2 linked regions of the Homo sapiens genome follow. The protein of the gene in region 2 interacts with the protein of the main gene of each other region in a pairwise test. Each region holds a gene or a part of one and is shown on either strand. Other genes may lie near its edges. The genes, in order: EPN2 and ARRDC2.

Region 1 (13,632 bases), on a different chromosome or scaffold from region 2:
ATATTCAAGAAACAATCCCACTTTCATACAAACTCCTTTAGAGAACAGGAAAATAAAGAATATTCCTAGTCATTGTATGAGACTAGCAGAAGCCTAATGGCAACACCAGACAAGGGCAGTGCAGTGAGAACAAACATTTCAGGCCAGTCTGGTTATGAATATAGATGTAAAAATCCTAAGGAAAGAAACAATTACAAAACCCAAGCCAGGGAAATATTTTCAAAGATGTACATTATGAAGTACTTTGTTTGCAAGAACCAACTCATTAGAAAATTTACAAATGTACCATATTAACAGATTAAAACAGAAAACATGTGGTCATCTTAGAGGCAGAAACCATTTGATAAAATTCATTAGCCATTTATTTCCAAATTCTAGCAAACTTGGAATAATGGCAAACTTCCATAACCTGATAAAGGGCTTCTAAAAGGAAAAAAGCCTATAGCTAACATTGAACTTAATGGTAAAATATTAAAAATTGATCCTGTAACATCAAGAGCAAGACAAGGATACCAACTACCAGCACTTCTATTTGATGATGTAACTGGTGATCCTAGCCAATGCAGTAAGACAAGAAAAAGACAAAGTATAAAGGACTAGAAAGAAGACACTAAATAGTCATCATTTGCAGGTGATGGGATTGTACATAGAACATGAAAAAATTTCTACAGATAAGTTATTAGAATTAAGAATTATTTGAATTATTATTAGAATCAATAATTGGAATGACTTCTAATTAACAGTTTGGCAAGATTGCTGGGTACAAAAGAGTATACAAAAGTTTTTCTGCATAACAATAAATAGATTTCTATGAAAAGTTTAAAAGATACTAGTTCCTAGAAATAATGCTTAGTTCCTAGGAATAAATCTTACAAAAGTTGTACAAATATCTGTGGGAGATAAAGGGTAAAAATTAAAAAGATTAAATTTGACCAAAAGATATTAAAACTTAAGCAAATGCAGAGATACCATGTGATCTTGGTTTGGAAAACTCACTATTGTAATGATAATGCTTCTCCCCAAATTGATCTTGGATGCAATGCAATTCTGGCCAAAATCCCAAAAATATTTAATTTTTGTTTCTTCACTTTTGTTTTTTAACTTGACAAGATGATTTTGAGATGACTACAGAAGAGCAGAGGGCCAAGAATAGCCAAAACAAGATTGTGATTTGCTGTATCAGATATCAAGAATTCTCATAACACTGTTTGTGAGGATAATTAAGAAGGTGCAAGTGGCCAGGCGTGGTGGCTCACGCCTGTAATCCCAGCACTTTGGGAGGCCAAGGCGGGCAGATCACAAGGTCAGGAGATCGAGACCATCCTGGCTAACACGGTGAAACCCCGTCTCTCCTAAAAAATACAAAAAATAAGCTGGGTGTGGTGGTGGGTGCCTGTAGTCCCAGCTACTCGGGAGGCTGAGGCAGGAGAATGGCATGAATCTGGGAGGTGGAGCTTGCAGTTAGCGATGATTGCGCCACTGCACTCCAGCCTGGGTGACAGAGCGAGACTCCGTCTCAAAAAAAAAAAAAAAAAAAAGTGCAAGGACGGAAATAGGTAAATGTAGAGAGCCCAGTAATAAGCCCACAAAGACTTGACTTACGACAGAGGAGGCCCTGCATACCATGCTGCGAGGAGTGGATGGACTCTAGTCCATGCTGCTGGGATGAGTCAAGAAGAAGGTAACCATAAGGGACGATCGGTAAAAGACTCAAATTGGCACCTTATAGGAGAGGAATCATGAGTGACCCATGAGTATATGAAAAGATGCACAGCCTCATTAAAGAACAGGGAAATGCACATCAAAACCACAATCAAATAACTTTTCAGCCCACCAGATTGGCACACATGGGAAAGTAAGCTAATACTAAGCATCAGAGAGGTTATGAGGCAACTCCTGGGGCGGCAAGACTGGCACCCACTGCTGGATGGAACATAAACTCGTGCCACCATGTGGAAATAGTTGTAGCATTCCTTGGTGAAGGCAGAGGTACCCATGACCCAGCAACTCGTGTATACATGTGAACAAGAACAAGCAGCAAAACCAAACGAGTATCCTTCAACAGAGGAATCATGACTTTTTTTTCATAGAATGGAACAAAACAAATTCCAGCTCCACCTCAACACAGATGACTCTCTCAAATAAAATGTGGAGTGAACAAAGCCAGCCACAAAGGAATGTGTACAGAATGCTTCTATTCATATAAAGTTCGGAAAATAGGGACTTGGCATGGTGGCTCACACCTGTATTCCTAGCACTTTGGGAGACTGAGGCAGGAGGATTGCTTGAGCCCAGGAGTTTGAGACCAGACTGGGCAACACGGTGAGACCCCATCTCGACGAAAATTAGAAAAAAAATTAGCCGGGCGTGGTGACATTCCTGTAGTCCCAGCTACTTGGGAGGCGGCGGTGGGAGGATCGCTTGAGCATGGGAGGTGGAGGCGTAGTGAGCTGTGATTGCACCACTGCACTCCAGTCTGGGTGACAGAGTGAGACCCTATCTGATAAATAAATGAATACACACACATATTTAGACACACATACATATACATAATATATATGTGTGTGTGTATTCAGAAAATAGGCACAACTAACTAAAGGTATCCCTACAAGATAAACTAGAAGGAGAAACAAGAGAAAGGCTAATAAACAGTTCATAATGGTTGGGGTAGGAATGTCATTGGGGAGGCACTTTCTGGTCCCTGAGAGGCGGCAGTGGTGTCTGAACACTTGCAGTGCTCCGCGAGAAGGAAGGAGATGTTGGTTTTATTTTATATGTACTCATGTATACACAAATCTGTGTCTATACATAAAGATGCACATCACAGCGTTGACACTTAACATTAGATGCACTCAGATGTTTTAGTTTTTTTGTGTGTGTTTTTTCTTTTTTTAAAAATTTTTTTCTCTGTTTTTTAAAGCCAGTTGTGACCCACTAAATTGATTTTGTCACTCCCTGTTTGAAAGTGTTTTATTGCTTAAGTTGGGTGGTAAGTATGTAGCTGTTTGTTTTATTCCTTTTTATACAGGACTCATCCATTTATATATGCTTCTGTCAGAAAGCAGAAACCACTCAAAGCACATGGGGAGAGGATGCCTCTGTGCCTCTACAGAGCCTGGGCCGAGGTGGGAGGGCTGCCTGGGGCCCCTTGTCTGAGGAGGGAGCCTGGATTCTGTGGGGAGATAGGTTTGTTTCAGATAGTCCATCGAAGTGGGGTTGAGCTCAGGAGCCCTTTGCAAGCCCCCTGTATGGTGGGGAGCTTGGAGAGAACCTCTTTCAGCTGCTTCCTCTGGTCATTACTAGAGGACAGGGAGAGGTTATCCTGGGACATCCTGGCCTAGCATGCTTCCTTACCAGGGTTGTTGGCCCTGGGCCCCAGCTGTGTCCCTCTTTGCTGGCGTGGGACAGTACCCTTTTGATGGCTGTCTCACCTGGCACAGGGCATAGACCCTGGTGTGGCTGGCAGTATCCTTTTCCCTTCTCACCCCAGCTGCCCAGACCCTCTGAAGGCATTTCTGAGCCCTGACCCTGCCTTCCAACAGGTACCAAGCCAGCTGCCTCCATTGACCCATGGGGGGTGCCCACTGGAGCCACCGTACAATCTGTCCCCAAGAACTCGGACCCCTGGGCAGCTTCACAGCAGCCTGCCTCCAGTGCTGGGAAAAGAGCTTCTGACGCGTGGGGCGCAGTCTCCACCACCAAGCCCGTGTCTGTCTCTGGTGAGCCCCTCACTCACCCACTTTCCTGCCTGGCCTCTGAGCGCCCACGGGCCCTGCAGCCGCTCCTGGCTCCTAGGCATCAGCCCTGTTGCTTTGCTTGCATTTGCTCCCCTCCTCCCCCTTAGCCTTTGTTCCTGATCCCCAGATCCCAGGTGCCCCAGTGTGAGAGTGAGTGAGTGCGAGTTCCCAGGCTTTGTGCGCTGGTACCTCCCTCCAAATTGAGGGGGCTTCCACCTGGGTGTTGAGAGAGAAGACTGCCCTGGGCCCACAGCCTGTGGGTCCTGTCCTCACCCCTGGGGGGCTGGGCAGGCTGGCCTCCAGGCACTCCTTCTGGTGACTTCCTACAGACCCTCATCCAAGCAACCAGACCCAGCTTGATGCACCTCCACCACTGCCAGCACCCCTTTGCCTTTTGGGGTGAGGGTGTTAGAAGCAGTAGCAGGTGGGCATCCCACACCCTGTCCTGGGAGGCCAGGCTCCCTGTCTCCCCTCCCAGCGTGCTGGTGACCCCAGGCTGTCTTGCCTCTTTGGCTCTCAGAATTCTCCTCCATGAGGTAGGGTAAGCGGGGAGAGGCCCCTGTTGCCAGCCCATCCTGAGGGTGTGCACTGGGCAGTGGAGTTGCCATGAAGTCCTGTGAGATGCCCCCAGTCATTGGCTTCTGTGTCCACCCAGGGTCCTTTGAGCTCTTCAGTAATCTGAATGGTACAATTAAAGATGACTTTTCTGAATTTGACAACCTTCGGACTTCAAAAAAAACAGGTATGTACAGGTGATGATGGTTTCCATAATCCTCCGTGCATTTGACCAGCTGAGTTATTGCAGAAATAATAATCAGCTTTCAAAACCCTTCAGCTTCCTGCATTTTCTTTGTATTTTGATCTTGGGAGCCTGAAGTTTCTAATTCTAAGAATTCATACATCAATAGTTAAAAATCACAAGGTAGAGTCCCCCAGGACTATGTCTCCAGGTTAGGATCCCCAAAGCTTCCTGCAGATTCCACAGCCCCGGCCTCCTCAGCTCAGAGTGGGCCTCACCTCTGGCCTGATCCAGCATTTCCATTCACCCTCCTCCTGCCAATTTCCACTCCTCAGAGGGCCTCCTTTTCCCAGACAACCACCTTTGGGCATCAGTGGGGCCAGCCTCTGCCCTGTGTTGTCACCTCCCAGGTGACCGCTCCAGCCCAGCAGACCCACAGTCCAGTCTCCAGACCTGTTTTCCTTCCCTGTGTGCCTCTGGGATGGAAGGATATCAGGTGGATGCAGTGGGCCAAGTGGCCAGTGGGCCAAGGTGGGCCTGGAGGGGTGGAGGGAGAAGGCCTGGGATGCATTCTTCACACACCCTGTTTGGACTGGGGTGTGACAGCCTCTGTCCATCTCTGGGCCACATCTCCCAGCCACACATGGCAACTTCTCTCTTTTTTTCTTTCCTGTCTTGGCTTCTGCTGCTTGCCTCCCCCAATTTCCCTACCACCTCTATCCCAGTCTCTTCTTTTTCTCCCTTCTCTTTTATCCCTCCCTACCAACTGTAGCCACAAGCCTGGCTAGGCCCTGGTGTGAGGTACAAGCAGCCTGGCACCGTTGACCCTGCTCGACCCCCTTGACCTCCTCTAACCCCTCTCAGTTCAAGAGCTCCCAGCTGAGAGACCAGAGGCAGCTTTGAGAATGTGCTGCTTTTTTGGGTCTTTCCTTTGCTGCATTAATAAGATTCCATGTGTCTTCTCTGTAGGCCAAAGTATAGCCTAACCTGTCCTTGACTCCTGCTCCGTGCCTCAGTGAGAAGGCAGCGTGGCCATTGTTACATGTCAGCTTTTGAAACATTTATCCCCTGCCGGTGCAGTGGCTCACACCTGCAATCCCAGCACTTTGAGAGGGCCAGCGTGGGAGGATTGCTTAAGCCCAGGAGTTTCAGACCAGCCTAGGCAACATAGTGAGACCCCCGTCTCTACAAAAAAATTAAAAAATTAGCCAGATGTGGTCGTGTGCACCTGCCTGTGGTCCCAGCTAGTCAAGAGGCTAAGGCGGGAGGATCCCTTGAGCCCAGGAGATTGAGACTGCAGTGAGCCTTGATCGATCGCCCAGGCTGGAGTGCACTGGTGTTATTGGTGTTTTGTTTTTTTGTTTTGTTTTGTTTTGAGTCTTTTTTGCTCAGCTCATATTGTCAGATAGAGTTGTCCTGCCCCTTGCCTCAACTTTTGTGGATTAACAGATTGAAAACATCTTCTCATGACTTTAAAACTTGTTAAAAAATACTTTGTTGCTATATAATCTCTCTTTATATGGCTCAGCAACAATTCAATAATTTGGGGGAGGACATTTTAGGTTGATTTCAGGTTTTGCTACTGTAAATGATGCTGTTGTGAAACTCTTTGTGCTTATAACCTTGTTCACATTTTACATTATTTGCTTAGACCAGATTCCTAGAAATGGGGTTACTAAGTGAGAGAATGACTGTTGTTAAGAATTCCTGTACCGTGAAGCATCCCGTCGTGGCAATCACATTCCTACCGGCCTGGCTCAGCACAGCCTGTGTTGCCTCTATGGGCTGAATTTTAAAAGACACAATTTGCTTTCTTTTTACTATCAAGAAGTTCATGTTTATTGTGGAAAATTTAGTAAATGGAAAATGTAAGAAAAAAAAAAAAAAGTAAATTGCCCATGCCTAGCTTCCAACCCAAAATGACATCTTGGTATTCTGGAGGAATGAGCTATACACACTCTTTTATAACCTGCTTTAGTATTTTGATAAAGCTTTCTTTGCTTATCATTAGGTATTCTTCTGTTCCTGCATGCTGGTGTTTCGTTATGTGGACACTTGATTTATCTAACCCAGCCCATGACTGGCTGTGTGTCGTCACGTGGCGCTGTCAGGCAGGCATGTCCCCAGGAGGCCATGTTTTGTGTTAAGTACACAGTCTTAGGCTCTCCCTGCCACACTCACCCTGCCATATGTGTCCTTGTCTTGTAGCCGAATCTGTGACCTCTCTGCCATCCCAAAACAATGGAACTACCAGCCCTGACCCCTTTGAGTCTCAACCCCTGACTGTCGCCTCAAGCAAGCCCAGCAGTGCCCGGAAAACACCTGAGTCCTTCCTGGGCCCCAACGCGGCCCTGGTGAACCTGGACTCACTGGTGACCAGGCCTGCCCCACCAGCCCAGTCCCTCAACCCTTTCCTGGCACCAGGTAGGCTCTCATCCCAGGCTTCATCCATTGCCTGCTGTGCCTGGGAATGGGTGTGCAGCAGGCCTCTTGGGGGCTCTTCCCACTGTGTGACGGGGAAGGGGTGGGACTAGCTGGAATCTCTAGATGATTACGTATGCCCTCGCCAGTGCTGCATGGGGTGGGGTGTGGAAGCCGTTGTCAGTTATGTGGGGAGTGTATGGGTAGGAAATAGCTCCTCTCCTCTCAGTTGAGACTACCAAGCAGAAACTGTCCCTGACTTGGTGCCCCCCCAGTTGTGAGACCCTCGAGGGAATGTCAGTTCTAAGACAGGTGGAGTAGGGTGGGCTGCTGGGGGTGAGGAAGAGCCAGGGTTTGGCGTGTAGCATTCCTCTCTCGGGAAAAATGTAACTTAGCCCTTGGGTACAAGCCTTCCTCCAGGTCCCTTGCTTCCACTCCTGGTGCCAGAGTCTGCCCCCTGCCCTCAGGGCTCAATGTTGGCTGCCGGCCAAGCCCCCAGCTGTTCAATTGGGTATCCAGGGCCATTATGGCCTGGTCCCACCCTCCTCTTCCCTTCCTGTGTGCATGAAACCCTTGTGACATCCAGCCCCTTGGCGCCCCTCAGCCTGTAGAGCCCTTCCTTAAGCCCAGGCTGTTACACACTCAGTTTCCCCTGCCTGGAATGTCCTCCCTCCTCTTCCCTAATGAAAGCATCTTCCTCATCCTTTGACACCTAGCTCAGATGACTCCCTTCTAGGAAGTCCACCCAGCCCCCTTCCTCACGGGGTTTCCCCAAAGCCTTGGGCTTCCCCCAGGGCAGGAATGTGTCACCCTCAGGTGTTCAGCCCCAGGCTGGCCCCACCATGTAGGGATCTGAGGATCTTGGGCCACCGTCCCTGACAGTACCTTGCAGAGGAGAATTACCACTGAACTTACAGAGGCTGAGGTTGGGGACCCTTGGGCAGAGGTGAGGTGTGTGGAGTTACTGGGTCCTGGCCAACCCTGAGGTCCTGAGATGGGTGAGGACATGGCTGCCCCCAGGGGAGGTGGTTCCCTGGGTGGAACTAGATTAGTTTCCAGCCTCCTCAGCCAGCCAGGAGTCTGTGTCTGCCCCAGGAGGCCTTATGCCTCTTCTGCCCAGAGAGCCCTTGAAGGCCCTGCAGGAGCTCCAGTGGTCATCTGTGTCTGTCAGCTCTTGGTGGGCACCTGGCTGGAGGCCTGAGGCAGCTTTGTTGGCTGCACACCAGTCATGGTTCCTGGGGGCTGCAGCCAAGATGGAGGAGGTTTGGGCAACTCTGCTGGACATACAGGGCCATTCTCCAGGCCACACAGGGTAGGGCCAGGCTGCATGGGAGAGTTGGTGCCAGCAGCGCACACACTTTTGCAAAGAAAAGGCTTTCTGGTATGAGGTAAATTCTGGAGACACTGGGAAAGACAAAGCTGCATCAACTTCTTGACTGCAGGATTTCTAGCCTTCGCGGTGTCATATGTGGATCCCTGGGTGCATTGTGGGCACTGCCACATGAGCCACACACTGCCAGTCCCATGTCCCTTTCAGCAAACAAAATGAGGGAGCAGTGGTAGCTGATGGCTGGTGAAGGTGTCCTGGGTGCCAGCACTGCAGAGGAGCCAGGGTGCCCCGAGATGGGTGTGTTCCTGGCATGGCCTTGTTCAGCTTTGTGACGCTGGACAAATCACTTGGCTTCTCACAGCCTCAATCTCCTCATCCTTAAAGTGCAGATTCATGCAGTCAGCAGATATTTGCTAGTGTCTGCCATGGACTCGGCCGGCACTGTCACGGGCTCTGAGGGCACAGCAGGGACCAGAACACCCGCATGCAGTCCCTGACCTGGGAGCTCAGAAAGCCACACCCTGACGGCTCAGCCTCTGCCCCTCCTTCTGTCTCCCCAGGTGCTCCCGCCACCTCGGCCCCTGTTAACCCTTTCCAGGTGAACCAGCCCCAGCCGCTGACACTGAACCAGCTTCGGGGGAGCCCAGTCCTGGGGACCAGCACATCCTTTGGGCCTGGCCCAGGAGTGGAGTCCATGGCTGTGGCCTCGATGACCTCCGCGGCCCCACAGCCAGCTCTGGGGGCCACTGGTTCCTCTCTGACACCACTGGGCCCTGCAATGATGAACATGGTGGGCAGTGTGGGTATACCCCCATCAGCAGCCCAGGCCACTGGCACAACCAACCCTTTCCTTCTCTAGTGCCTGGGCCTGGGACCCACCCAGAGCACCTGTGCTGGAGGATGCCGAGCAGGGACTCTCGTCTGTGGGACGGGATCCAAGAGTTTGGGGATTAGGGGTATTAGGGCTTTTCAGCTCCAGCTTCCTGATGAAAGGGCTGTCTTTACAGCCCCAACCCTCAGACCCTCGCCTTCCAAGGCAGGCCCCTCAGCCTGGCCTGCTCTCACCACCTCCTCCAAAGCACTGAGGTCCTGGCAGGGCTCCTCTGAGGCCTTGGACGAGGACGTGGAGTCATCAGTGTTGCCCTTGCCCCTAACCTCAGCCCGAGGGTCTCCAGGATGTTGCCTGGCCCAGGACTTGGGACAGTGGCCTTGTCTTTGTCCTCCCCACCCCCCAGCCCTAGGGACACCCCAGGCAGTCCTGGGTGTGGACACGATGAAGCACCGGCTCCATAAGACACCTTTTGGGGAAGTGGTTGTGCATATTTTATTTTTCTTTGACTCGTGTGAGTTCAAAGTAAACACCACCACCGTGGACAACTCTTGAATTAAATCCACTAGAGCGAGCTTTAAAACTAATCTGAGCATAACCCCCAACGTGGCTCTATGCTTGTGTACCTTTGCACATATTTTGTTTAGTACAGTTTCATATTTGAGTTTGCAGAATTATCTAATAGTCTTTTTTTGGCTAATATTTTTATAACGTGGTTCTTATTTAACTGTCTAGTTTTGATAGAATTTACCAGGTCTGGCTGAATGAAGATGTTGGCACGTGTCATTTTAGTGGTTTAAATCCTCTTATTTATGGTTTTAACTCTAAGAAAATTTTAAAAGGAAGAGATGTTTGGATGACAAAAAAATGCCTTATTGAAAAACTAAAGCAAATTCTTTATAGGAAGAAAATATGGGAATTTGATTACACATAGATGATGATGTTTATTTAAAAAAAAAACAACAGCAACAAAAAATCCTAGCCTCCAGTTGCCTTTTCCTTTCTTTAGCTCCTGTTTTTGGTGAATTACTAAACTGATTGACTTTCAGCCTTTTTGGCTAGATCCTGAGAGGCTATTTTTCTTACGAATATACCAACATCCTGAAAGTTAAAGAAAAAAATCTAATGTATGAATGTGACTCACCAATTTTTATCAACTAATTCCTTTTTTTTATTAAAGGCATGCAGGGATTAACAGGACTTCTGTTTACAATGGAAATCTGAAATGGAAGAAACATCTTTAACCTTGTGTGTCTGTGATCTCCTCTGTCTTAATCCACGCTCAGGCTAAAGATGGGGATAATGTGGAAATGGCAGTTGTCCCGAGGGCGTGGGGTGGGGGGTGCTTCTGTGCCCACGGGTCCCTGGGCAACAGTCCCTAGGCTAAGACAGGGGTGGGGGGCTAAGGGACCAGGGCTGGCCCTGATCCACCTACCTGCTAACTCCAGATATTATTTTTAAGTTGGAGACCTAAAAATAATTCTCTTGTATTTTGGAGATGAAGAAAAAAGTCATTCACCTGGGAGGGATTTTTAACAAACATGCACTAATATTACCTCCCTCTTCCAAACTCCTACTGTCCTCACCTCACCCACCACTGTAAAAGTATTACGTCGTGCATTAAAGACCAGAAAAGACTTGCTTTTACCCAGGGAGGGGACATTCCCCCAATCCTGTGTCTGGGCAGCTTGCCTGGTGGATGTTTCTGGCCCTTTTTCCACCATGGGAATTTCTCACCTCTAGCTCTAAGGGCAGCTGACCACCTGCCAGCCCCTCTCTGGTTCCAGAAGATTACCCTTCGCACCGGCACAGGAGAGATCTTAAATGGTCTCTGGGCTGCTGGGACATGCAGGCTCTGAGTGGGGACTGCACCCACTCATGCTGTTCCTGAGGCCGCCCTCTCCAGTCCCAGGAGCCGTGTCTAGAGTTCCTGACCAGCCACCTTCTGCCAGAACTGCAGGCCTGCGGCTGGGTCTTAGGCTCCCGCTGCCATTTGGGTAAGCCGGTGGCTGGTCTCGTCTGCCGGGGGAAGGGTGGGGAGGTGCAATGGGATGGGAGGCAGGATGCTTGCCCAGAAAGGTGCTTTCCTTCAGACGGTGCAGGGCCTGGGCCAGCCTTACAGGTCAGTAGACTAGACTCGACTACTTGGGGTCAGTGATTCTTTTGTAACGAGTCTTTCATGATGTGACTTTGAGGCCCCAACATGACAGCCACTGGGCCACCGGGACCCAAGAAGACAGCCCCCTGCCCCATCTTCTGGCACAGGCCATCCCGAGTGCATGTCCCTGTTGCCCACTGCACTGATCATGAAGCCACCGGCCACTGCCACGCATGTTGCACCTGTGCCATCGTGCTCCCTCCTGATGGGCACCGTGGTGGAGGAAGTCACCCAGCTGTTTCTCAGTCCCAGAGGCCGGTGGCTGGTTTTGAACTTGTGTTGACTGTTGATACTTATTTACTGTATAAATATAATTTATCATTTGTACCATGATGCGGTTTCTGGCTGTGTCCTTCTCCCACCCCATCTTCATCAGTCCTGTGCCACTGGAGAGGTGGGAGATGAGGGAGCCGATTCTTGTGGAGCTTGGTCTGCAGTTATTGAGGCCACCAGCCTGGTCCTAGTGCCCGCGTGAGCTGGGCATTTGGTTGCCCCTGAACCTCAGGGAAAGGGGGTGGGAGGCGTGCCTTTTGTGAGGTGCTGAGACTGGTGGCCTGCACGGGTGTGCTGGGGGAAGTGCTAGCCACTGCCCTTTACCCTTCTGTGTCCGCCCTCTTAATGCGGCCTTGTCACTGGTGGAGGCTGCTTTGGATGAGGTGGAAGTGACAGTGTGCCGGGTCCCCAGAGGCTTCCTGTGCTCTGCCTCCTCTTGTGTCCATGCTGCAGAAGAGCTGCTCTGGGAAGCCACTGCCTGTCAGCTGAGGCAACAGAGGGAGGGAGTGCGTGGAGCTGCCCAGCCAACTGCGTGTTCCTGAGAGGAAGGGCCTGTTGGAGCCACTGGTTCTTAGGTGGCTTGCTGTGCAACAGCTGACCGACAGAGGGCCTGTGCCTCAGAGCCACCAACCAGACGAGGGCAGCGGCGGGAGGACACGTGCATCTCCAGGCAGCAGAGGTGGAAGAGGTGCTCTGGTCACGGGAAGAGGCAAGGCCGAGGCAGAGGCGGCTGGGAGACCCTGATGGGAAGGGTTGGAGAGGCCTTGAGACGAGCCTGGAGGGAGGTCTGGGACTGCCCTGCAGCCCTCTGCTCTCTGTGCAAGTGCCTGGCTCCTGGTGTCCACCCAAGGATAAGCAGACAAGCTTGACTCAGAGCTAGGAGGCTAGGGACTGGTGGCAGGGGGTGCCCGTTCAGTGCAGGGGACAGGAGAGAAAGAAGGGTGTGTGGGATGCTCTTGGTTACGCTGCAGTAACACATCTCCAGGTCTCAGCGGCTTCCCGCGGAAGTTTCTCACAGAAGTCAGTGACTCAGGGACTCAAGCCGCTTTCATCTTGAAACACTGCTATCTTTGACAGACAGCCCTGAAGGTGGCTATGAAGGGAAAAATGGACAAGGGTCAAGCATAGATTTCTTACAGCCAGGCCTGGAATTGCCTCACTGCCACTCACACCAGTGCCAGAATTAGGCCCTCGGCCCCCATCCAGATGTGGGGTGGGTGGGGATGGGCAAGTGCAGGCTTCCTTAGTGGTGGAGGGTGGGAGGTGGGGAAATGGGCTTGGTTAACATTGCCAGTCTCTATCACAGCGGACTGTCTGGCTCCCAGAGAGTTATTTCAGTCTTCTTCTCAAACATAGACAGTAAGGTCCTGTGTCCTGGGCTCTGTGGAGTACAGAGCCTTCTCCAGCAAGGCAGACACAGCCTATAAACTAGAAAGACCTATGATCTGTGCCCTTCCCCCAACAATAACAACAAAGCAGGGCAGGGGTCAGTACCCACAGTCCAGCTCCATTTGGAGGAGCAGAGAATGGGAGACTGCCCCACAGTGCTGGAAGCTGCCGCACAGACTGAGGTCGCCTTGCGGTGAGGAGGGAAAGGACCTGATGGTGCCCTGCTCTGGGCTCTGCCCCCTGGTGGGGAGCTGGCCTTTTTTGTATTCCCTTGGCTGCAGCTCTTGGGCCAAGCTCAGCTTTCTCACCTGCTGCCTGTGGGTGGATGGTTCCAGGCCAGGACCTGTTTTGAGTGAGCCAGAGGCTTCAGTCCAGGCTCATGGACTTTGCACACTTCCATCAAAAATGTGGCAATCTTTGTACTTCTAATCAGTTCCATGTACAAATAACTGCATTATTTTGGTCAGAGTGTTACTTTGGTGGCCCCTGATGGACCTTGTCTCCCAGTGTGGTCTCCGTCACCTGATGGGCGTGGCCATATGACTAGATGGGGCCAGTGCCATGATGGCAGGAGGGGCTTGATAAATGCCTGCACATGGAGCTTGACCTCTTGGCATGTTCTGCTGGCAGCCCACATGTCGTACTATGAGAACTTCAAACACATGGAGAGGCCACATGGGGGAGAACGGAGGTGTTCTGTCAGTAGCCCCCATGAGCCCCAGACAACAGCCCACCATGTGAGTAATCATCTTGGTC
Region 2 (15,735 bases):
TTACAATATGTGAATTTCACCTCAATAAAAACAAATCCAGGGCTAGGCATGGTGGCTCACACCTGTAATCCCAGCACTTTGGGAGGCGGAGGCAGGCAGATCACCTGAGGTCAGGAGTTTGAGACCAGCCTGGCCAACATGGTAAAACCCTGTCTCTACTAAAAAAATAGAAAAATTAGCCAGGCGTGGTGGCACATGCCTGTAATTCCAGCTACTTTCGAGGCTGAAACAGGAGAATCATTTGAACCCGGGAGGCGGAGGTTGCAGTGAGCCAAGACCAAGCCATTGCACTCCAGCCTGGGTGACACAGCGAAACTCTGTCTTAAAAAAAAAAGAAAGAAAGAAAAAAAAAATAAACCCCGTCTCTACTAAAAATTCAAAAATTAGCCGGGTGTGGTGGCAGGCACCTGTAATCCCAGCTACTTGGAGGCTGAGGCAGGAGAATCGCTTGAACCCAGGAGGTGGAGGTTGTAGTGAGCTGAGATCACACCACTACACTCTACACTATGCCTGAGCGACACAGCAAGACTCCTTCTGAAAAACAAAAACAAACAGAAAAAAACCCACAAAAACCAAACCTAGACTCAGATGACAGGATGTTCCCGTACTCAGGCGGCTCCTCCCAGCCCCAGCCCCCTGCTCCCCACTCTCTGAGGATAGAGTTCTCTGCTTGTCCTCCACTGTTCAGCCCCCGCCAGCCTCTGAGACTCCGATAGGCGGTGCAGGTATGGGGCCCAGGGCTCAGCTCCCACCCCAGCTCAGCCTCCTCATATGTCCTTGGACCAACCCCCTCCCAGTCCTGGGCCTCAGTTTCCCCTTCTCAATCATGAGCCCCTTTGCCTTCCTTGGCCAGGAATTTAGTCTCCAAGATAGTGACCAGGGATGGCAGTCCCAGTTCCCTCAGCAGCCAGATCGGGGGCGGAAATAAACCAAGAAGCCCGGATTCTTTCTCCACACGTTTACTTTTAAAAAATAATTGTACAAAACAGAATGAATTCTTAAGGCATATCAGAAATGCTGAGTCCCAGGCCGGGGCCCTGCCCCAGCCAGGGCTGGGACTCTGCAGTTGGGAGCTTGTCCAGCTGCCCCCTCTAATGCTTTTCTCCTCCAGGACACAGGGAGCCTCCGGAAGCACAGTAGTCCCCGTGTGTCACCTTAGGCTGACCTCTGTCCCCAGGGGTGACGTAATGCTGTCACTGTCTTGAATTCTTCATCGTTTAACAGGGAGCCCAGTGTTTTCACTTTGCACATTGGGTATCTGGTCTTGCCTGTCCTACCCTGAACCTGGGTTCCCTGGGCCATGTAACACCCAGGCAGCTCTGATGCCCCTGGGTACTTGGAGGAGCTCCCAGGAAGTCCAAGCCTGCGCCAGGAATCTCTGGCTTTCAAAGTCTTCAAAGGCTGGAGCGGCTGCCCCTGCCACCCACAGACTCCACATAGCTCTGACAACCTGCTTTCCTGAACGCCTCGTTCCTGGGTCCTTTCACCCACCAGACCTCACTGTGTGGCCTCAACTCTGAGGCACCTGCCCTCTGAACCCCCAGTTCTACAATAAACGGGGTGGATTCCAAACGTCACTCAGCTCTGACCTTCTCTGACCTTTATTCCTCATTCGTCTGCCTGCTGAGCTCCTATTCGTACTCCAAAGCCTCAGCTAAAATGCCCTTTCCGCAAGGACGCCTTCTCTGCTTCCTGTCTGGACTCTCACAGTTGCAGGTCTCTTCTTCTGGTTCTGTGATGCTGGAACTGTCTATGTCTGGCTCTGTTTCTCCCAGACTGAAGGCTCCTAGGGGATTCCAGCACCACCAATTGGCTGGGAAGACAGGTTATTAAACAGTCTCTCGGATACTGCACTGGGCATTCAATGCCTCACAAGGACAGCGGTCCAGGTAAGTCAGATTCCAGCCGGGCTCTTCCTCTGTCCCATGTGATATCCGAAAGGCCCCCGCCTCACTCTGAGACTTGGTTCCCCAACTTTGATGCAGTCGGGGAGGTCAGCCCTTGGTCCAGCCACTCCCCACAGTCATGGTGGCTGAAAGCTGGTGTGCAACCTTGTTCCTCGAGGGGTCCCTGTGCCGTTCAGCAAGTCATGCAGCGCGGCCTCATGTCCCCCAAGAGTGGGTTTGGATCCTCCTAAGAGAAATGTTCCCATTAAGCCTCAGAGAACACTGGAAACAGAAATTCAGAAATACCGCTCCCCATCTAGCCATCTCCCAACTCCCGCCCTTGACCAGGGATGAGGCCATCAGGAGGTGGTGTCTAGGGCAGACTGGGGTGCAAGGAGGGTTTTGGAGCTGAGTGTATACCGTCCCTTGGTATCCACAGGGGATTGGTTCCAGGAACCCCGTGGATACCAAAATCCACAGATGCTCAGGTCCCTGATATAAAATGGCATAATATTTGCGGATAATCTAAGCCCATCCTCCTGTGTACTTTATTTTTATTTCATTTTATTTTTCGAGACAGAGTCTCGCTTTGTCACCCAGGCTGGAATGCAGTGGCGCAATCTCGGCTCACTGCAACCTCTACCTCCTGGGTTCAAGCGATTCTCCTGCCTCAGCCTCGTGAGTAGCTGGGATCACAGGTGGATGCCACCACACCCAGCTAATTTTTGTATTTTTGGTAGAGACCTGGTTTCGCCATGTTGGCCAGGCTGGTCTCAAACTCCTGACCTCAAGTGATCTGCCCACCTCAGCCTCCCAAAGTGCTGGGATTACAGGCATGAGCCACTGCATCCAGCCCTCCCGTGTACTTTAAATCTCTTCTAGATTACCTATAATACTTTATGGCCAGGTGTGGTGGCTCACGCCTGTAATCCCAGCATTCTGGGAGGTCAAGGCAGGCAGATCACCTGAGGTCAGGAATTCTAGACCAGCCTGGCCAACATGGCAAAACCCCGTCTCTACTAAAAAATACAAAAATTAGCTGGGCATGGTGGTGGATGCCTGTAATCCCAGCTACTCGGGAGGCTAAGACAGGGAGAATTGCTTGAACCCGGGAGGTGGAGATTGCAGTGAGCCGAGATTGTGCCACTTCACTCCAGCCTAGGTGACACAGCAAGACTCCATCTCAAAAAAAAAAAAAAAAAAAAAATATATATATATATATATACACATATACACACACAAAATATAAATGCTATTTAATCACTGTTATACTGCATTATTACTATTAGTAGTAGTATTGAGATGAGGTCTTGTTTTGTCTCCCAGACTGGAGTATGTAGTAGCACAATCATTGCTCACTGCAGCCTCAAACTCCTGGGCTCAAGCGATCCTCCTGCCTCAGCCTCCCAATCATAGATGGGCTCCACCAAGCCTGGGTAATTTTGTATTATTTGCAGTAGAGATGGGGGTCTTGCTATGTTACCCAGGTTGGTCTTATACTTCTGGCCTCAAGCAGTCCTCCCATCTTGGCCTCTCAAAGTGCTGGGATTACAGGCATGAGCCACCGCACCCAGCCTATCATATTTTTAATCTGTATTATCCATGTATGTATTTATTTTTCAAATGTCTCTGACCCATGTTTGGTTGAATCTGCAGATTCCAAACCAGCTAACGCAGAGGGCCGACTGTATGTAGCGAAATTCTGTCAACAATTAAAATCCTCTGCCAGCCGGGCACAGTGGCTGACGCCTGTAATCCCAGCACTTTGGGGAGGCCAAGATGGGAGGATCATTTGAGCCCAGGAGTTCAAGACCAGCCTGGGCAACACAGTGAGACCACATTTCTACAAAAAATACAAAAATTGGCCGGGCGTGGTAGCTCACGCATATAATCCCAGCACTTTGGGATGCCGAGGCAGGCCATCACCTGAGGTCAGGAGTTCAAGACCAGCCTGACCAACATGGTGAAACCCCGTCTCTACTAAAAATACAAAAATTAGCCACGTGTGGTGGCTAACACCTGTAATCCCAGCTACTCGGAAGGCTGAGGCAGGAGAATCGCTCTACCAGGGATGCGGAAGTTGAAGTGAGCTGAGATCGCACCATTGCACTCCAGCCTGGGTGACAAGACTGAAACTCCATCTCAAAAAGCAAAGCAAAACAAAACAAAACACAAAAATTAGCAGGATGTGGTGGCGTGTGCCTGTAGTCCCAGCTACTCAAGAGGCTGAGGCGAAAGGATTGCTTGAGCCCGGGAGGTCGAGGCTGCAGTGAGCTATGATTATGCCACTGCACTCCAGCCTGGGTGACAGAGCAAGACCCTGTCTAAAAAAACAAAAAAACAAAAAAAACCCATCTACTATGTCTGCCACCCCATCAAGGCTCCCAGGGCCCAGAGAGGCATGGGTGGTTCTCAGACCCCTGAGCTCACCTCAGAGTACAGGGGTGGCGGGCGGTAGCGGAACTCTTGGATGTAGGCGAAGAACGGGCCTTCAAGGCTCATGTCGGGGTCCTGCGGAAGCGGGAAGGGGCTCTGCCCCAAGGCTGCCTCCTCAGTGTCGGCTACCACCTCCGAGTACTCAGGAGGAGCTGGAAGCGAGAGACAGGGTGGGTGAGGTTGGCAGGAGAGAGCCCTGCTCCAAGGGACCAGGGGCCAGGAGCTGGCTTGTGCCAGCTCTGGGGCTGCCAGGCTGTATGTCCTTTGGTTGGGATTCCGGGGGACTCGTGGTGAGAGAGTTGACCCGGCATCCACCTCTCCGTGTATCCACCCACCCTCTGCATGCAAGCAGGGTGGGAGCTTACCCTCAGGCCGCTCCGGCAAGGCCCCCAGCCTCCAGTCCAGCAGGAAGCTGGCGTGGCTGCCCACGCTGGAGGAACGGCTGCCAAAAGGGTGCAAGGGAATGGTGCCGATCACCAGTGGCAGCTCCAGCAGCAGCTTGGACGTTCCTGGGATATCCACACAGACCTGGAGGAAGGAACCATAAGGGAGGGTGCCCAGGCAGCCTCCCCAACCCCCACCTCCCTCCTATGCCTGGGGAGACTGAGGCCTCAGCTTCCCCCAGTCTGAGGGAATACAGGGTGAATGTAGGCACTGTCCCCCAGGGCCAGCAGGATGCCCTACCTTGAGTGCGTAGTCCACGTGTAGAACGCGGCAGTGCAGGATGGAAGGACCCACTGGGGGGATCCGCAGTGCCCGGCCCTGCCACAGCGCCCGCTGCCCGGGGCCCACCGGCTCGCCCGCGAGGCTGGCCACCACTGCCCGTTTCTGCTTTCGGGCGCCTCGGGCCATGAACGTCTGTGTCTGCACCACGGCTGCCCGAGGCAGCACAGGACGTGTGGAGCCGTTGTCGATCTCGGCAAAGACAGGGATGACCTCTCCTGCAGCAAGGAGCAGTGGGGCCTCAGTTTCCCCTCCTGCAACCCCAACACCAGCCCCCGTCCCAACCCAGTCCGGTCCGCCTGCTACCTGGGGTGTAGCCCTTGCGGTCGATCTTGGCCGAAAGGGAGACTAGGCCACGGTTACAGTACCAGGATCGGGCAACCTTTTCCCGAGCCCCCGCTTGAGGTGCCTGTCGGTGTAGAGGAAAGTGACATGGATGAGTCACTTTGTGCAAACCACAGTCGCTGTGGAGCTTCCAAACCACCCCCAGCTGAGGGAGGACTTTGGGCAGGGCTTGGTTTCTTTTTAACAATCCAGGAACTATCCGTTAAATAGAGCCAGGAACACAACCCATCTTATAAAGCCAGAAATGAAATGTATAAGCCAAGTGTTTGGTGTGTAATTCACACTTGGTAAGCCCTAGCTCTGGTCTATTTCACAGAAGAGGCATCTGAGGCTCAGAGAGGGCTTCAAGACACTTGCCCAGAGTCACACGGCAAATGGGTGCAGATCCCAGTGGATTCCACACGCATTCCCACACCTGCCTCCCTCCCTGCCAGGGCCCACCTATGACCTCCATCTTATTGGTTGGTGTCGCCCAGCAGCCAGGCAGGCCCCTTCCTACAATACTCCCAACCTACCTCCCCAAGGGTGGCCACTCACCAGCAGGGCTGGCGTGTTGATGTCCACAGGCTCGATGACAGTGAACACCTTCCTTGCCCGGCGTGCTGGGACCCAGGGCCGGTGCAGGGTGGCCTTGATACAGTAGCGGACACTACCGTGTTTGCCCTCGAAGGATGTCACCAGGGTCCTAGGGTGGAGGGACGGGACTTCAGGGGACAAGATACAGAGACAAGCAGGCAGGGAGAAGGAGACACAGACACTCCGGGGGCCTCCCAGGGGGAGAGTCTTGGGGCTCAGAGGTGCCCAGATATCCAGTATTGGAGGTACCAATCTGGAAGGGGCTGCAGGCTTAGGGCAACCCTGCACCCCAGAGGACTTACGGGGGCAGCTGGAAGCTGAACAGGAACTCATGGCGCCCAGGAGGCAGCGTCGTGGTCTCCCCGGTATCTGCAGGTAGGAGAAAAAGGAGGCGACTGAGCGGTTGCGCTGGGGTCCCAGGGCTGACGGAGGTACCGCCGTCCAGGTGGTGGGAGGCACACAACTGGTGTTGGAGCAGGGGTCCTCCATCCGTACCTGGCGCCAGGAGCGTGGCGCGGTGGCTCACGACCTCCACGCGTTCACTGTAGCTCTGCGTGTAAGCCGTGCTCGAGCCCGCGCTGCGCGACTCGGTCCAGTGCACGTGGGCGCGGCCCCGCGCGCGCAGCCTCAGGGCACCCACACGCGCGGCGCTTGACAGCTCCAGCAGCACCCGGCCCGCCACGGCCTGGCCGCCGCTAAACACGGGCTCGACGCCCGCGGTCGCGCCGTCCAACTGCACCGAGAACGCTTTCACCTTGTCGAATAGCATCGCGTCCGGGGTGCGAACCCACGACAGGCGGAACCTGGCCTCGAACTCGCGAACCGGCAGCTCAAGATGCCGACGCTGCAGCCTCAGAACGCAAAATCGCCGTCAACGCGCAGGCGCGCTCACCAACCGGAGCAGAAAATCCCCGCGCCGTGCGTCGGCGCCGCTTTTATACGGCAGGGCGGGGGGGGGTGGGGTCACCGTCTCTTCCCCGCCCCGGGAAGGGACTCCACCAATAGCGCGACAAGGGGCGTGGCTCTGCCCAGGCGTGGAGCAAAATAACAAACGCCCCTGCTCACCGCCGGCTGCCCCCTTCCCTCGCGGACCCCGGGGAGAAACTGAAGCCCTTAGGCTGCCAGAGCTGGTCTCTCGCGGACCCCGGGGGTAAAGAGGAAAAAAAGAGGTGCAGAGGCAGGGCCCAGGCCTGAGGTCACCTAGCAGAGCCTTCAGCCTCTCGGCTTAATCACTCACCAGCCGCCCCTCGTTGACGTGACTCGAGGCATGTCCAGCCCGATTTGGGGCGGGGGACTCTCGCCCCAGTTGAGGGCCAGAGAGCCTATGACTGTTCCAGGCCTGTTTCCCCCGCTATGCAAAGGGAGAAGTGGAGGAGGTGGGTGGGACCGCCCTCCACACTGGTGCCTGCTGCACCCCTTTCCTGATTCAAGTCCCGCTTAGCTGGTGGCTCTGGGCAAATGACAACCTCTTGGAGCCTCAGTTTCCACCTCTGTAGAGCCGGGAGAAAGTAAAAATCAGTCCTGACCTCAGAAGGTTGTGCATGGATCATCGTGCAGCCCCAGCTGGACTCCTCCAAGAGCCTCGCTCCCGGGTCATCAACCTGCTCTTGACATACCGTCACTCGGTCGCGCCTCGGCGCATTCGCCCAGGAGCGGTACCTACGAAATGATGTTCCCTTCCCAATTTTCAGCCTCTGGCAAACCCTACCTTCCCCGCAGCCCTTGTGCCTGCTCCAGTCATCCTCAGCCCCCGTCCCGCCACAGAGCTGAATGCAGGGGACGCTCGGGCACCCCCAGGTCCACAGCTGCGGTGTGGCCACGGGACGGCGTGACCTCTCTCTGGGCTTCAGTTTCCCCAAAGAAAAGTCGCATGGAGTTTCTCCAGCGGGAGTTGCCTCTGCGTCGTCTGCGGGACGCTGGCGCCCTCTCGTGGCAGCGTAATGCGCTGCCGCTGAACCCATCCCCTGCCGTGACTGTCCGCCTCTGAGCCTGGCTCAGGAGACTTCCACCACCTCAGTGAGGTGTGTGGGTGGAGGGGGCGGTCATAAACAAACACGGTCACCCTCAGCCCGTGATGGGGATCGGAACAGGAACGACGGAGTTGGAGGCACAGTGATCAGCCTGGAAGGCTGCCTGGGAGGATGGGTCTTTGGAGTTGAAAGGAAGGTCTGGGACCTTAGGCCAGGTTTCAATGGATACTAGAGGGGAGACAGTAGGCCGTTAAGTCCGGGAGGAGAAGCGGGATTAGGTAACCCTGAAGGGACTACTGAGCCAGCGCCTCCCTCAATTCATTTCGCAGACGGACCCCAAAGGCCCAGAGATGGGTGGGGCTCTGCCCGAGGTCACACAGCACCTCCACTGGCCTCGCCCCTCCAGTGTCACTGTTTTTTCCTTAAATGTATAACAATTTAACAATTTTTAAGCTCCCTCTCCCTCTCCCTCTCCCCTTGGTCTCCCTCTCCCTCTCTTTCCACGGTCTCCCTCTCATGCCGAGCAGAAGCTGGACTGTGCTGCTGCCATCTCGGCTCACTGCAACCTCCCTGCCTGATTCTCCTGTCTCAGCCTGCCGAGTGCCTGCGATTGCAGGCGCGCGCCGCCACGCCTGACTGGTTTTTTTGGTGGAGAAGGGGTTTCGCTGTGTTGGCCCGGCTGGTCTCCAGCTCCTAACCTCGAGTGATCCACCAGCCTCAGCCTCCCGAGGTGCCGGGATTGCAGACAGAGTCTCGTTAACTCAGTGCTCAATGGTGCCCAGGCTGGAGTGCAGTGGCGTGATCTCGGCTCGCTACAACCTCCACCTCCCAGCCGCCTGCCTTGGCCTCCCAAAGTGCCGAGATTGCAGCCTCTGCCCGGCCGCCACCCCGTCTGGGAAGTGAGGAGCGTCTCTGCCTGACCGCCCATCGTCTGGGATGTGAGGAGCCCCTCTGCCTGGCTGCCCAGTCTGGAAAGTGAGGAGCGTCTCTGCCCGGCCGCCATCCCACCTAGGAAGTGAGGAGCGCCTCTTCCCGGCCGCCATCCCATCTACGAAGTGAGGAGCGTCTCTGCCCGGCCGCCCATCGTCTGAGATGTGGGGAGCGCCTCTGCCCCGCCGCCCCGTCTGGGATGTGAGGAGAGCCTCGGCCCGGCCGCGACCCCGTCTGGGAGGTGAGGAGCGTCTCTGCCCGGCCGCCCCGTCTGAGAAGTGAGGAGCCCCTCCGCCCGGCAGCCGCCCCGTCTGAGAAGTGAGGAGCCCCTCCGCCCGGCTGCCACCCCGTCTGGGAAGTGAGGAGCTTCTCCGCCCGGCAGCCACCCCGTCCAGGAGGGAGGTGGGGGGTCAGCCCCCGCCAAGCCAGTCGCCCCGTCTGGGAGGGAGGCGGGGGGTCAGCCCCCCACCCAGCCAGCCGCCCCATCCGGGAGGGAGGTGGGGGGGTCAGCCCCCTGCCCGGCCAGCCGCCCCGTCCGGGAGGGAGGTCGGGGGGTCAGCCCCCCACCCGGCCAGCCGCCCCGTCCGGGAGGTGAGGGGGCACCTCTGCCCGGCCGCCCCTACTGGGAAGTGAGGAGCCCCTCTGCCCGGCCACCACCCCGTCTGGGAGGTGTACCCAACAGCTCATTGAGAACGGGCCATGATGACAATGGCGGTTTTGTGGAATAGAAAGGGGGGAAAGGTGGGGAAAAGATTGAGAAATCGGATGGTTGCCGTGTCTGTGTAGAAAGAGGTAGACATGGGAGACTTTTCATTTTGTTCTGTACTAAGAAAAATTCTTCTGCTTTGTGATCCTGTTGATCGGTGACCCTACCCCCAACCCTGTGCTCTCTGAAACATGTGCTGTGTCCACTCAGGGTTAAATGGATTAAGGGTGGTGCAAGATGTGCTTTGTTAAACAGATGCTTGAAGGCAGCATGCTCGTTAAGAGTCATCACCACTCCCTAATCTCAAGTACCCAGGGACACAAACACTCTGCCTAGGAAAACCAGAGACCTTTGTTCACCTGTTTATCTGCTGACCTTCCCTCCACTATTGTCCTATGACCCTGCCAAATCCCCCTCTGCAAGAAACACCCAAGAATGATCAATTAAAAAAAAAAAATTTTTTTTAAATTTGCTTTTCTTTTTTTTTTTGAGACAGGATCTCACTCTGTTGCCCAGGCTGGAGTGCAGTGGCGCGATCTAGGTTCACTGCAACCTCTGCCTCCCTTCCACCTCAGCCTCCCGAGTAGCCGGGATTACAGGTGTGTACCACCATGCCCCGCTAATTTTTGTATTTTTTGTAAAGATGGGGTTTCACCATGTTGCCCAGGCTGGTCTTGAACTCTTGAGCTCAAGCGATCTGCCCGCCTCAGCCTCCCAAAGTGCTGGGATTACAGGTGTGAGCCACTGCACCCAGCCAAAATTTTAATTTTTTTTTTTTTTGAGACAGGGTCTCACTCTGCTCTGACACCCAGGCTGTAGTGCAGTGGCACCATCTTGGCTCACTGCAACCTCCACCTTCCGGGTTCCAGCGATTCTCCTGCCTTAGCCCCCTGAGTAGCTGGGAGAATTTAAAAATTAGCCCACCTTGGCCGGGCGCGGTGGCTCACGCCTGTAATCCCAGCACTTTGGGAGGCCGAGGCAGGCGGATCACCTGAGGTCAGGAGTTCGAGACCAGCCTGACCAACATGGAGACACCCCGTCTCTACTAAAGATACAAAATTTACCGGGTGTGGTGGCGCATGCCTGTAATCCCAGCTACTTGGGAGGCTGAGGCAGGAGAAACACTTGAACCTGGGAGGTGGAGGTTGCAGTGAGGCGAGATCATGCCATTGCACTCCAGCCTGGGCAACAAGAGTGAAATTCCGCCTAAAAAAAAAAAAAAAAAAAAGTTAGCCCGGCTAATTTTTGTATTTTTAGTAGAGACAGGGCTTCACCATGTTGGCCAGGCTGGTCTTGAACTCCTGACCTCAAGTGATCCTCCTGCCTCAGCCTCCCAAAGTACTGGGATTACAGGCATAAGCCACTGCGCCCAGCCAATTTTTATGTATTTAAAGAGATGGGGGCCGGGCATGGTGGCTCATGCCTGTAAGCCAAGCATTTTGGAAGGCCGAGGTGGATGGATCACCTGAGGTCAGGATTTCGTGACCAGCCTGGCCAACATGGTGAAACCCGTCTCTACTAAAAATACAAAAATTGGCCGGGCACTGTGGCTCATGCCTGTAATCCCAGCACTTTGGGAGGCCGAGGCGGGCAGATCACGAGGTCAGGAGATCGAGACCATTCTGGCTAACATGGTGAAACCCCGTCTCTACTAAAAATACAAAAAATTAGCCGGGCGTGGTGGCGGGTGCCTGTAGTCCCAGCTGCTCGGGAGGCTGAGGCAGGAGAATGGCGTGAACCCGGGAGGCAGAGCTTGCAGTGAGCCGAGATGGTGCCACTGCACTCCAGCCTGGGCAGCAGAGGGAGACTCCGTCCCCCAAACAAACAAACAAACAAACAAACAAAAATTAGCCAGCGTGTTGGCGGGCACCTATAATCCCAGCTACTCGGGAGGCTGAGGCAGGAGAATCACTGGAACCTGGGAGGCAGAGGTTGCAGTGAGCCAAGATTGCGCCGGCGCCACTGCACTCCAGCCTGGGTGACAGAGTGAGACTCTGTCTCAGAAAAACAAAACAAAACAAAACAAAACAAAACAAAAAGTTAGCCGGGTGTGGTGGCGGGCACCTGTAGTCCCAGCTACTCAGGAGTCTGAGGTTGCAGAATCACTTGAACATGGGAGGCAGAGGTTGCAGTGAGCCGAGATCGTGCCACTGCACTCCAGCCTGAGTAACAGAGTAAGACCCTGTCTCAAAAACAAAAACAAACACAAAAACGGAGTGGAGGGTGGGAGGTCTCATTATGTTGCCCAGGCTGGCCTCTAACTTAGCTCAAGCAATCCTTCCGCTTCAGCCTCTGTGATAGCTGGGACCACAGGTGGACCCACCAGGCTCGCCTCTCCAGTGTTTTTTGTTTATTTGTTTTTGTTTTTGTTTTTGAGACGGAGTTTCGCTCTGTTGCCCAGGCTGGAGTGTAGTGGTGCCATCTCAGCTCACTGCAATCTCCGCCTGCCGGGTTCAAGCAATTCTGCCTCAGCCTCCCGAGTTGCTGGGATTTCAGGCGCCCACCAGCACGCCCAGCTAATTTTTGTATTTTTAGTGGAGACAAAGTTTCACCATGTTGGCCAGGCTGGTCTCGAACTCCTGACCTCAGGTGATCTGCCCGCCTCAGCCTCCCAAAGTGCTGGGATTACAGGCGTGAGCCACCGCACCCGGCTGCCTCTCCAGTGTTTTAAGGAAGTCGCCGTTGAGTGTCTGGGCCGGCCTTCGGGTGAAAGCGGTCCCAAGAGTTCTCCGAGTCGCCGGGGAAGGGAAGTGCCTCCTGGGCCCCTTCCTGCCCTGCCCCACCGCACTTGCTTCTGTTTCCACCGCTGGGGAGGGAAGGGTCCCCCGCACCTGTGGCTCTTGTGTGCCCAAAACTTCTATTGCCCGCAGCGCTGGGAAAAAAGTGGGGCTGTCGAGAATCTGAGCTGCCTCCCTCCCGGCCCATTTTACAGACGGGTATAGTGAGGTCTGGCTTGGCCCGGAGGAATAGCCAGGGCGGCCCAGAGAGGATGATGCCCTCCCGCAGCCACACAGTAGGGTGTGAGGGTATGGACTGCCTCCTTCTGTGACCCCTGGCTCGCTGGTGACCAGCTGCGTGGCCTAGGGGCGCTTGGGGTGCGAGAAGGACTGAGGTTCGGGGAAGAGTAGGGACCTGCCCAAGACCCAGACTCCCAGGAGAATGTGACCCCACTTCATCTCTTCCCCTCTGGGATGCATTTCCACCTCCTCACCGGGAAATACCACCAGACCCCCAACCCTACCCCAGGGAAGAACTCAGCGCTGCAGACCCTGTGGGGTAAACTGAGGTGGGGCCCTGGGTAACACGAGTTGGGGGCCTTCTCTGAGAATCAGGGACTCCAGGCCTGGGATCAACGGGGACACTGGGGTCCACCAGGGAGATCTCCCACTCTACTTCCCGCGGGTTTCCTGGACTCTAATAGGAGGGTCCCCCTGCTTTGAAAGGGGTCTCCCCACCGCACAGTCTAAGTTGAGGGAGTCTGGCTCCAGAGAAGGGAACACCCAGACCCTGGGTAGACGTTCCCGGTTAGTGGGGGTCCTGACCAGGGCGGGGTGGGTGTCCAGGCTGGAGTGCAGTGGTGCGATCTCAGCCCATTACAACCTCTACCTCCCAGGCTCAAGCGATCTTCCCACTTCAGCCTGTAGCTGGGACTCCAGGCGCGCGCCACTAAGCCTGGCTAATTTTTGTAGTTTTTGGAGACATGGGGTTTCACCATGTCGCCCAGGCTAGTCTTGAACTCCTGACCTGTGGGAGGGTCAGGACCCCGGGAAGGGGGTTTCCCCCTCCTTGAAAAGGATCACCCGACCGCATAGGTTCTAAGTTGAGAGGCTTCCGGCCCTGAAGAGGGTCGCGGCCGAGGGGGTCCCGGCTGCTGCGGGGGCGGCGCGACGAGTGTCTCACCTCGGAGCAGCAGCTGCCGACGCCGCAGGTAGGTCTCCGCGGCCGCGTAGTCGCTGGATACGGCGTTGACGCCCACGCTGCGACCCTCCAACCAGTGGGTGGCCGCCCCGCCGCGCGCCTTCACCTCGAGCGCTCGCACCCGCAGCGGCGCCGCCGCCTCCAGCAGCACCCGGCCGCACAGCCGCTCCCCGCCGCGGTAGGCGCCGCCCGGGCCCCGCGCCAGCTCCAGCGCGAAGCTGCGCACGCCCCCAGAGCGCATGGCGCGCGGCTGGGGACACGGTTTGGACACGCGGAGAGAAGGCACACGGCCCGGGCGCGCCTGCAGATCCCCGGGGTTTCCGCGTTCCCCCGTCGCGTCCCCCAAGCTTCCTCCGGGCCCCCCCGGCGAACTTGGGCCGGCGCCGGTGGCCCAGGGCGGGCGCGTCGTCGGCGAACTTCCTGGTCCTCTGCATCCGCCCCCGTGACGCACGCGGGCCGCCGGGGACTGGCCGCCCGCGTGCCCGCACTGTTGACTTTGCCATCCTCGGAGATGGGCGGGCCCTGTTTTTGTAGGGTCGGCGCTGTTGAATCAGAAGCAGGCAGGGGCGGAGGTGGCTGGGGAGGCACCGAGGCGGCCGCAGATCTCAGCCCTATGGTCTCATTCGCCCCTCACTACCCCTGCCCCCCCCGCCGCCCAGAACCCGGCACCGCCTCAGTCTCCCCGTCATTGTCACTTCATGGCTGTCCCTCAAACAAAATCCACCTCGAGTAGCTCTCTTCGCCTCCGCACTGGGCCGTTCCGCTACCAGATCCGTTCTCCCACCCATCCCGCCCACGCCCAAATGCCACTTCCTCAGAGTCCCCTTGCCACCTCTGGCCTTGTTTACTTTTCTCTGTTTTTTCTTTCTTTCCTTCCTTCCTTCCTTCCCTCCTTCCTCTCTTTCTTTTTTTCTCTTTCTTTCTTGCCTTGTTTACTTTTCTCTTTCTCTCTCTCTTTTTTTAAGACAGAGTCTCGCTCTGTCGCCCAGGCCGGGGCACAGTAGCGTGATCCTGGCTCACTGCAATCTCCACCTCCCTGGTTCTAGCAATTCTCCTGCCTCAGTCTCCTGAGTACCTGGGACGACAGGAGTCGTCCACGCCCAGCTAATTTTTGTATTTTTAGTAGAGATAGGGTTTCACCATGTTGGCCGGCTGGTCTCCAACTCCTGACCTCAGGTGATCCTCCCACCTCAGCCTCCCGAAGTACTGGGATTACAGGCGTGAGCCACCACGCCCGGCCTGTTCATAACTTTATGGCTTTGGTGTTTTTTTTTTTTTTTTTTTAAGTACTATGGGTTTACTGTGCCTCTGCCATCAGACCTGGGAGCTACCACTGGCACAGAAGGTACACCCACGGATGTTCCTTAACCAAACCCTGGGTTCTCACCCTGAAGGACAGCCCCTTTCCTTCTCAGGCCTTAGTTTCCCCAGCCAGACAACAGGGTAGAAAGGATGAGTCCTGCCAAAGACTCCAGTGTGATCCCTCAGGCGGGAAGGAGCATTTATTGAGCACCTACCAGTTGCCTGGCCCTTTTTAGGGAGTTCTGGTTAAATAGACTGTCACCCCATTTTACAGATGAAACAACCAAGGCCCCAGAGGGGCAGCCACTGCTCAGAGTCACCCAGCAGTGGCAGAGTCAGGACTCGAACCCGGGTCTGACCAGCACCTCCTCATACCCTTCTCGTGCGTGGGCCCAAGCTGGTCATTCATGCACCAGCCACGGCCTAGTTATCTCGTTGAGCCAGGCGATGGATGGCCTTATCAGAGGCTGCCAGGACCTGGGGCTCCTCGGCTATGCACAGCGTCGTCTCCCCAGGAGCCAGGCCTCCTCGCCCCACCCAGGGCTCAGCATCTGCCAAGTAAATGCCTGTTGCTCCCAGCACCCAAGCCCATGGCCTCCAGGGACCTTTCTGATTCTACTTGTGTCTGGAACCCTCCCCTGTAGCCCACCCCTGAAGGGTCTCTCTGACCCCTGGATGTCACCAAATAACCCCTCCTCCTGACGTCCCCATGGCTCCTCCATGGAGTCCCTTCCACCAAGTCCAGGTTTTTTCTCACTGCAACCTCCACCTCCTGGGTTCAAGCGATTATCCTGCCTCAGCCTCCCAAGTAGCTGGGATTACAGGCGTGCACCACCACACCCAGCTAATTTTTATATTTTTAGTAGAGACAGGGTTTCACCATGTTGCCCAGGCTGGTCTTGAACTCCTGACCTCAGGTGATCCGCCCGCTTTACCCTCCCAA

Evidence for each region.
Region 1: the proteins of ARRDC2 (region 2) and EPN2 interact in binary tests that used the Homo sapiens proteins (3 or more experiments, as listed by UniProt).

The regions. Positions count from the first base shown.
Region 1 is NC_000017.11:19,325,169-19,338,800, forward strand, and holds the end of EPN2 (epsin-2), read left to right. Parts: intron 1-3,542; coding exon 3,543-3,719; intron 3,720-4,392; coding exon 4,393-4,479; intron 4,480-6,684; coding exon 6,685-6,900; intron 6,901-8,787; coding exon 8,788-9,086; 3' UTR 9,087-11,547; downstream 11,548-13,632. UniProt on the Homo sapiens protein: Plays a role in the formation of clathrin-coated invaginations and endocytosis.
Region 2 is NC_000019.10:17,999,311-18,015,045, reverse strand, and holds ARRDC2 (arrestin domain-containing protein 2), read right to left. Parts: upstream 6,877-15,735; 5' UTR 6,736-6,876; coding exon 6,462-6,735; intron 6,336-6,461; coding exon 6,269-6,335; intron 6,076-6,268; coding exon 5,928-6,075; intron 5,455-5,927; coding exon 5,352-5,454; intron 5,264-5,351; coding exon 5,007-5,263; intron 4,851-5,006; coding exon 4,688-4,850; intron 4,475-4,687; coding exon 4,317-4,474; intron 2,134-4,316; coding exon 2,080-2,133; 3' UTR 944-2,079; downstream 1-943.